2 linked regions of the Homo sapiens genome follow. The protein of the gene in region 2 purifies or fractionates together with the protein of the main gene of each other region. This does not show direct contact. Each region holds a gene or a part of one and is shown on either strand. Other genes may lie near its edges.

The links. Proteins that work in one complex are often made in the same cells at the same time.
Region 1: the proteins of MED12L (region 2) and NCAPD2 fractionate together in Homo sapiens (co-fractionation; one large-scale study listed by BioGRID). This does not show direct contact.

What each region holds. Positions count from the first base shown.
Region 1 is NC_000012.12:6,500,602-6,504,101, forward strand, and holds part of NCAPD2 (condensin complex subunit 1), read left to right. Parts: intron 1-3,500. UniProt on the Homo sapiens protein: Regulatory subunit of the condensin complex, a complex required for conversion of interphase chromatin into mitotic-like condense chromosomes.
Region 2 is NC_000003.12:151,087,347-151,093,098, reverse strand, and holds part of MED12L (mediator of RNA polymerase II transcription subunit 12-like protein), read right to left. Parts: intron 1-5,752. UniProt on the Homo sapiens protein: May be a component of the Mediator complex, a coactivator involved in the regulated transcription of nearly all RNA polymerase II-dependent genes.

The sequences.
Region 1 (3,500 bases), on a different chromosome or scaffold from region 2:
GAAATGCAGGATGTCAAGGCCCAGGATGTCAAAGCTGCTGAATCAGGAAATCTGTATTTTAAGAAGATTCCCCCAGGCAATTTGGATGCAATTATAAGCTTGAGAAGCACTGATCTCTAGAGCCTCGTAGATCATGGCAAAAACTTGAACTTCAGTGTGAATGAACTTGAAAGCCATTGGGTTTTGAGCATGGGAGTGACATGGTCTGACATTTTAAAAGATTCACTGGCGACTGTGTTGAGCAGAGACTATAAGAGGCAAGGAGAGAAGCAGGGATACTAGTTAAGTGGCTAATACAGTAATACCAAGTAGATTGGACTGGAGGGATAGCAGGGGAAGTGGTGATAAAACGACTCAGGATATATTTTCAAAGTAGAGCTTTTACAGGAATGCTGATGGATTGGATTGGATTATAGGGTTAGTAAAGGAATCTGAGATGAGAATGATTACAAGGCTTTTTTTTTTTTTTTTTGACAGTCTTGCTCTGTTGGCTCTGTCACCCAGGTTGGCGTGCAGTGGCGTGATCTTGGCTCGCTGCAACCTCTGCCTCCCAGGTTCAAGCAATTCTCATGCCTCAGCCACCTGAGTATCTAGGATTACAGGTGTGCACCACCACGCCTGGCTAATTTTTTTTTTTTTTTTTTTTTTTTTTTTTTTTAGGCAGAGTCTCGCTCTCTCGCCCAGGCTGGAGTGCAGTGGCACCATCTCGGTTCACTGCAAGCTCCGCCTCCCAGGGTCACGACACCTGGCTAATTTTTGTATTTTTAGTAGAGATGCGGTTTTGCCGTGTTGTCCAGTCTGGTCTTGAACTTCTGGCCTCAAGTGATCTGCCTGCCTCGGCCTCCCAAAATGTTGGGATTACAGGCGTGGGCCACCACACCCGGCCTTACAAGGCTTTTTGACTTGAGCAACTAGAAGAATGAAGTTGCCATTTACTGAGATGGGGTAGCATATGGGAGGGAGAGGTTTAGATTGTTGGTTATGTGAGTGCAGAGTTCAAGGGAGAGGTTGTCAGCTAAAGATACACATTTAGGATTTAATACTCAGCGTGTAGACAGCACTTAAAGCCATGAGATTGCAGTGAGTGTAGATGGAGAAGAGCAGCAGTTTGAAGACCAAGACCTGAGACAGTCCAGCATTTAGAGGCTAGGAGGATGAAGAAGAACCAGTAGAAGAAATTAAGAAGCAGTCATTGGGGCAGAAAGCGAATGAAGGAGCTAAATGGACGCTAAATAAAGAGAGTGTTTCAAAAACAAAAGAGAGGTCAACTGCAGATTAACTACTGGATTTATTGATGTCATAGTCACTGGTAACCTTGACAAAGCTGTTTCAGGAGATGGTGGGGGCAAAAGCCTGCTAGGAATAGGTTTTTAAGAAAATGGAATGACAGAGATTAGAGATGATGAATTTACATAATGTATTTCTTTTAAGATGGGCAGCATTATGTGTGTCTATATTGAGTAGGAATGATCAGAGAGGGAAAAGCTGATGCTGCAGAAGGAAGAGGGAACAGTTGTTGGAGCAGTGCCTTTAGTAGGTAAGAGAGTACGTGATCTGGTACACGGGGAGGAGATGGCTTTATCAGAACATGGACAGTTTATCCACAGTAGCAAAAAAAAAAGGCAGAGTGTATGTATGGGCATAGATGCAACTAGTGCAGGTAAATATAGAGCTTGGGGCAGTTGAAAGTTCTCTTCTGTCTGCTTCTGTTTCCTCAATAGGAAGGGAAAGCCTTTAACTGAGAGTGAGTTTGGGAAGAAGGTCATGGTGTTATGAGCAGAGGATAGGTGTGAAATAATTGCCTAGAAGAAAACGAATAGACTTGGGAGTACGAATGCCCACTTCAGGTTAGTAGTCATGAGTTTAACGTAAGACTAGTCAGCTTGTTTCTGTGTTTTTCTCAGGCCATTTTTATTTGTGTGGTCACATGAATGGAGTAACCAGAAAGTTGGTTTAACCTAGATTTGCCAGGGGAGTATGTGTTGTTGTTGTTGTTAATTAGTGGAATAAGTTACAAGTATCACAGTATCTAACAATAGGGGAATAGTAAATTAAGATAGATATAAGGCCGAGTGTGGTGGCACTGCCTGTAGTCCCAGCTACTCAGAAGGCTGGGGCAGGAGGATCGCTTGAACCCAGAAGTTTGAGGCTGCAGTAAGCTATGATCCTGCACTGCACTTCGGCCTGCGCAACACAACAAACCCTGTCTCAAAAAAAATTGTTTACAAAGGTGTTTTTGTTGTTGTTGTTGTTGTTGCTTTTTTTTTGAGACGGAGTCTCACTCTGTCACCCAGGCTGGAATACAGTGGCACTATCTCGGCTCACTGCAACCTCCTCAGTTCAAGCGATTCTCCTGCCTCAGCCTCCTGAGCAGCTGGGATTACAGGCGCATGCCACCACACCTGGCTTTTTTTTTTTTTTTTTTTTTGTATTTTTATTAGAGACGGGGTTTCACCATGTTGGTCAGGCTGGTCTCGAACTCCTGACCTGATGATCCACCTGCCTCAGCCTACAAAGTGTTGGGATTACAGGCGTGAGCCACCACGTCTGGCCTACAAAGGTTTCTAATACACTTACTGTAATGCTAAATTTTAAAAAGCATGACAGAGAAGTGAATATGTGATACAAGCTCAACAATGGAAATACGATGTATAGAAAATGGACTGAGAAAAATATGCTGTTATAACTGAATGCCTGAGACTGGATATTTATAATGAAAGAAATTTATTGGCTCACATTTTTTTCTGGAGACTGGGAAGTCCCAAATCAATGCACCAGTAACTGGCAAGGGCCTTCTTGCTGCATTGTCACAGGGCAGAAGGCAGAAGGGCACAAGTGAACCCACTCCCCAGAGCCCTTTTTATAATAGTATGAATATATCGGTGAGGGGTTGGGCACGGTGGCTCACACCTGTAATCCCAGCACTTTGGGAGGCCGAGGCGGGCAGATCACAAGGTCAGGAGTTCGAGACCAGCCTGGCCAATATGGTGAAACCCCGTCTCTACTAAAAATACAAAAAATTAGCCGGGTGTGGTGACGCGTGCCTGTAATCCCAGCTACTCAGGAGGCTGAGGCGGGAGAATCACTTGAACCTGGGAGCCGGAGGTTGTAGTGAGCCGAGATCGTGCCACTGCACTTCAGCCTGGGTGACAGAGCGAGACTCCATCTATTTTTTTTTTTTTTTTAAAAAAGATGGTGAAACCCCGTCTCTACTAAAAAATAGAAAAATTAGCTAGGTGTGGTGGCAGGCACCTGTAATCCCAGCTACTCGGGAGGCTGAGGCACTGAATTGCTTGAACCCAGGAGGCAGAGGTTGCAGTGAGCTAACATCATGCCACTGCACTCCAGCCTGGGCGACAGAGCGAGACTCCGTCTCAAAAATATGTATATATATTTGTGAGGGTGGAGCCCTCATAACCTAAACACCTCCCATTAGACTCCACCTTCCAACACTGTCATGTTGGGGATTATATTTCCAACACATGAATTATGAGGGGCAC
Region 2 (5,752 bases):
TCTACTTTCAAGCAATCCTCCAGCCTTGGTCTCCCAAAGTATATATGTCCATTTTTAACAAGCATCTTTCACATTCGGCTGCAGAGGCTGGCAGACCCTGAAAAATGACAACCAGCTGAGTTCCTCCTCCCTGGCCATAGAGTTTGGGTAGCAAACTGTGAGAAGCTGAAAACAGCAGGACCTCCCAACCAGTGCTTCCTACACTGCTCCTCTCCTAAGAGTCACCTGAGGCATGAGTTAAGCACAAACATCAGTTCCTCCCTGAACACTGGGATTCTGGGAGGTCTGCAGCAGCGCCTGGGGCCAGCCAATTAGTCTCAGGTGAGGAGCTTTCTGAAATGAAGTATCTCCCTTGCCTCCTCTTTTGGTCCCCCAAGTCAACTGGTCAACCTGTCCTTTCTTCCCAGAAAACTTTATCAACATCCTCCCCTTTTGAAGAAACAAACTTTCCACCTCCCTCACTCCACTTCCCCAGCTGCCTCTAAAACAGGCATTCATGCCTTTAAGAGTTTTCGATGCTAACAAGAAAACTAACAGGAGTTACCAAAATAAACCAAGCATTGAGATAGTTAAATGTTATAAATACTCACAATTGCTCATTAATAGTTCTTTCTGCATTTATTAATTTCTTCATGAAGTATTTACTGAGCACCTAGTCTACTCCCAGGCACTAGGCCGTTCACAGATGTGAACACCACAGACAAGCCTCTGCTCTCATGCAGCTTACATTCCAGCTGGAAGGCAGGCCATGGAGAGAATAGCATCCTAATAATTGCATTTCAGTGACAAGCGCTACAAAACATATTAACTCAGGGAAATGAACTGGCAAGGATGAGGGAAGACAGGCTGCAAGGAAGGCCTCCCTGTGGGGGAGTTTCCGAGCTAAGAACCAAATGACAGGAAACAAAACTGCTGCAGGGAGCAAGGGACAGGAACCTATACACAAAGAAGCTAGGCCTGTTGGAAGAAGAGAGAGGCAGCCTGTGGTCCCACCACACAGCAAGTTGGAAGGGGTGACTCAAAGCCCAGATCTTGAAAGGCAGGATCTTGTGGCTGTTATGGTTAAGTACAACAGGAGACCCCCAGCATCCTTTAATAAGGGATCAGCTAATAGTGGCTGACCTGTGTTGAGTGCTGCCTGTGTGACAGGCACGATTCTACACACTTTGCATACATTAGCTCATTTTCTCTTCCCAGCAACTCTATGAAGTTGGAAGAAATACAAACCTCATTCCATGGTTGAGGAAGCTGAGTCAAACAGGCAGTAAACAGAGTAGCCAGAACTCAAAGCCAGGCTGTTTGGCTGCAGGCAATGACTGCAGAGGTGAACAAGGGCCAGACTGGTAGGGCCTTGAAGGCCAAGGTAAAGGGTTTGCATTTTATTTCAAGTGTAATGGAAAAAGCCACTGGAGGGGGACTGAGACTTCCTGGTCCATTCCCTTAGATCTGAACTAAGAGAGGGCACAAATTCTGGGACAAGAACACCAAATCTTGGCTGGGTTGGCTGTTAAACCAAACTACTGCAACTTCAGCCATACATAGAAGTCTAATCCAGCCCTGCTCGTATCAAGCAGAATGCTCTAGCCCCTGCAGAACTGGATGTCTTCCCTTTAGGTGAGGGTTCTCGAAGTGGGGCCCTAGACCAGCACCATCAGATTACCTGGGATCTTGTCACCAGTGCAATTTCTGAGGCCTGACCTCAGACCTACTGAATCTTAGAGACCCAGCAATCTGTTTCAACCAGCCTTCAGGGTAATCTGAATGTCCTCTGAAGTTGAAGAACCACCACTCTGGGATATCCGCATGCAGACACCACCATCACCACCAGCTCTCCTAAGTCATGCTGTGTATATCTTCGGGCAGCCCCTGCACTGCACACCAGGCCATTATTCCCGTAGGTCCCTGCTGGTGGGGCTCTACAGCTCCTGATTCCCGGAAATCTCATTACTGCCCCAACCCATTTTTCTAACAAATTTGATTTTCTGCACATATTTACTCTTCAAATGTTTCGGCCTCTTTTTCTGTTGTTTTTTGTTGTTGTTGTTTTGTTTTGTTTTTGAGATGCAGTCTTGCTCTGTCCCCCAGGCTGGAGTGCAATGGCACAATCTCGGCTCACTGCAACCTCCGCCTCCTGGGTTCAAGAGATTCTCCTGCCTCAGCCTCCCAAGTAGCTGGGATTACAGGCGCCTACCACCATGCCCAGCTAATTTTTGTATTTTTTAGTAGAGACGGGGTTTCACCATGTTGTTAAGGCTGGTCTCGAACTCCTGACCTCAGGTGATCCACCCGCCTCGGCCTCCCAAAGTGATGGGATTACAGGCATGAGCCACCACGCCTGGCCCTGTTTCAGTCTCTTTTGTCCCAGAGTAAACCTCCTCTTCCTTCCTACTTCTGGAGCTTAATTTTACTTTCAGGCTTAACCTAGGCTCCAAAGCAGATAGATGCAAAGGATACTTTCAGCTTTAACCTTGACTTTCCCCAACAGCCCTCAGTCACCGGATTTCCCTTTTTAATTTATTCATCCCAAGTTTATTCATGTTCCAATAAATATTTGTGCCCTCAGCCTTCTAGGAACTAATTGTGCAGGTGCCAGGTACTTCTGCCATACCAAAACAGACCTCATCCATGCCCTCATGAAACTGACCTATTAGGGGGAGATGGCAAGATGCAAATAAGTATATAATTGTAAATGATATATCAGAAAAGCCTGAGACTTGAATGATGAAGGGGCAGGCATGACAGTAGTTCATGACAGCAAACATATAGGGGCTGAATCTATGACAGATTCTGTTCTAAGTGCTTTTTACATATACTATCTAGGTAATCTTCCAACAGCCCTATGAGTTAAGTAGTATTATCACTCTCACTCTATATGGAAGGAAAATGAAGTATAGGGAGAATAAGGGGCACATAAACAGGACAGCCAGGGTCCCAACCCAAGCAGACTGGCACCAGAGCCTACCTTTCTAACCACAGGCTAAGGTGAGAAGAGCTGAGTGGAATGCTAAGTGGGAGGGGGTGGCTAGACAGGTGTCCAGGCAGAAAGACCAGAACAGAATATGCAGGAGCCCTGGGGAAGAGAAGTCACCCTGAAGCCAGAAGGGAGACCAAGCATACTGGTGAAACTGGAGAGCATCTGGTGGATTGGAAATATATTTTGGAACTGAACAGGATGTGCGCATGGATGTAGAGACGCTGATGGATGAATGGGGTATAAGCAAGGAGGAGGTCTCAAGGATGACTGCCAGTTTTCTGATTCCCTGCTTTAAAGGCTTGAGCACAGTCTGTTTGTAGGAAGCAAAGTATTATAACACAATATATAATGAAGTCCTACAGGATGCTGATGCACAGCAAGCTCTCAAAAAAATATAACCAATCCATCAGGCAGGTTAAAGCTTCCATATTCTCCCCCCCGCCCCACCCCCATACTTCTCCACATGGGTCTTCGTTCATGGGTTCCACCCTACCTTCTGGGAGCCCTTTTCTGAAATATATTACCACTGGTTAACAACAACAATAAAAATTACATTTATGGTGACAAGAATAACTTCTACCAGGAGGAGGGCTTTTCTCACACAAATGTTGGTTTGAAATTTTTTCTGAAGTGCACAAACTAATTTACAAATGAGAGGCTATGCAACTTGCCCAAGGCCACACAATTGCAAAAAAAAAAAAAAAGCTAAATCCAGGTTGGCCCAACTTGGAAGCCCACACTTCCTCCATTAAATCAGCATTTTCCACCACAGCTATCTCTAATGGAACACAACTGTTGTTTTCGATACACAGATGAACTTTTAAAGTGTTAATAGTAATGGTCTCATTTTATTATGTATAATCATATACGTGTGTGCATGTAATATCAAATAGATTAAAAATAGTATGTAAACATGATTTGATATAAATTTTATATATACATATATTTCAATAAATCCATGACTCCACGTGTAGTACTGCCCAGGAAACACAAAGTTTCTTAAAAAATTAGTTTAAAGAAAACTTCAGAATAAAAGTACAGGTGGTACAGGGGTAGGGTAGAAATCTTGAGGGAGGTAGGACATAAATAACTAAAGCTTAGGAAACTCTACTCACCAACCACCCAAGAACAGCCAAGCACCTGTTCCATATTGTACCCAAATTTGGCTACAGCCACACATAACTCTGTCTGCTTGGGAGAGTTAAAACATTGGCTGCCTTGGGGGAAAGGGGATAACATCAGAAGATAATTTAGCATAAATCATCCTCAAAGCAGTATTAGTTTTGACATAAATACTGGTTTGGTGGTACAACTCCTCTGCTTATTCACCTATACACCTTGGTTAAACGAGTCAAGCTTTCCCAGGCCTGTTTCACTTAGTCAAAAGGAAGTTATAGAAAGTAGTCCCTAAGGTCGCTTCCAGTTTTAGAACTCCATAAAATGTTGTGAGACCCTGAAATCCAAAATTACTCTTTCCAGAATCAGAGGCCCCAGTCGTGAAATGAGCATTGGCCTGAAGAACAAATGCTAAATAAGCCCACACAGCACCCCAAGCCATCATGCCATCAATTATGCTGCCCTCTGGAAAGACAGAGTAAGACATTAATTACAAGATGATAAAGTTCAACCAACAAAATATCCCTGTCCCTATCAAAACTTTAAGAATTTCCTCCCAATAATTTTTAAGCTATTAACTGTACACTTGATCCTCAGCTTCTCTATTATTTCCAGTCCTTAACCATTAACTTCATTCTAAGTTGGGGTAGCAGGGTGGGGTAACGGGTAGGAAAAAAAATCTGGGAAATCTTCTCAAACCTCTACCATCCTGTAAAGCTGGTGCTGGAAACCACCTGTAAAACCTTCCCAGCTTTCATCTGCGTGACTCCACTGATGCTAGAGCATATTTAGTGTGCTAAACCTCTAAAAGGAGTTGCTGTTCCTTACTTCTCAGACACTTTATAAGCAAGACAGTTTAGCCAGAACAAGCACTTACTCTCCTAATGAAAGATACACTTATCAAAAGGAAAGTCTTAAGGACCCCTCCTTGCCTGGTTTACAAGGCCCTTTCTGTGCTATCAGTGGGCCCACAAACTTTTAATGGAGGGTTTTTAGATTCTCAGAAAGGTAAGTTTTGAAATATGGTCAGTTCGTGTTTAGCTGAACAGAAGATGGGTGGACTGCAGCTGGCAAACTCAGAAAGCACTGCTGGGTAGCAGGTGATCAAAAAAAAAACAAAAAAAAGGCAAGTCCCTGGGCAAATGGTGTAGCCAAAGGTGATCATTATAACTAGAGACTTGTTACATAATTACTTGTTAACTCCTGACAAACAGATACACAGCTACAAAATGCCATGGTTACCCTAGCCATTGAAGCTAATGTAGCTGGTGCAAGAGTCAAGGTGTCTCCAATTAATCTCATTCAAAGAAATAAGCAATCCTGGGAACTATTCCCTCCCAAGGTAACTCGCCTGCTTTTACGTATACAAAACAGCCTCTAGCAATTAAGCCCATTGCCTCTAGAGACGAAAATCAGTGTTTCTCCTTAATTTTAATTTTTAAAGGGCAGAAGGGTTACAGAGGTATATTCAGAGAGCTAAATATTTATCACTTCGATAAAAACGACTTCCATTCCAAACTGGAAAATTTGAAAAGCTTCCCCCTCACCTTCGTCCCTGGCCAGCAAAAGCAAAACGCAAGACCTCAGTGTAGGATGCACTGCATTCCAACATTTTTCAAAAAGTTTACGACGATTTACCGAAGCGGCAAGAAGAAAAATAAA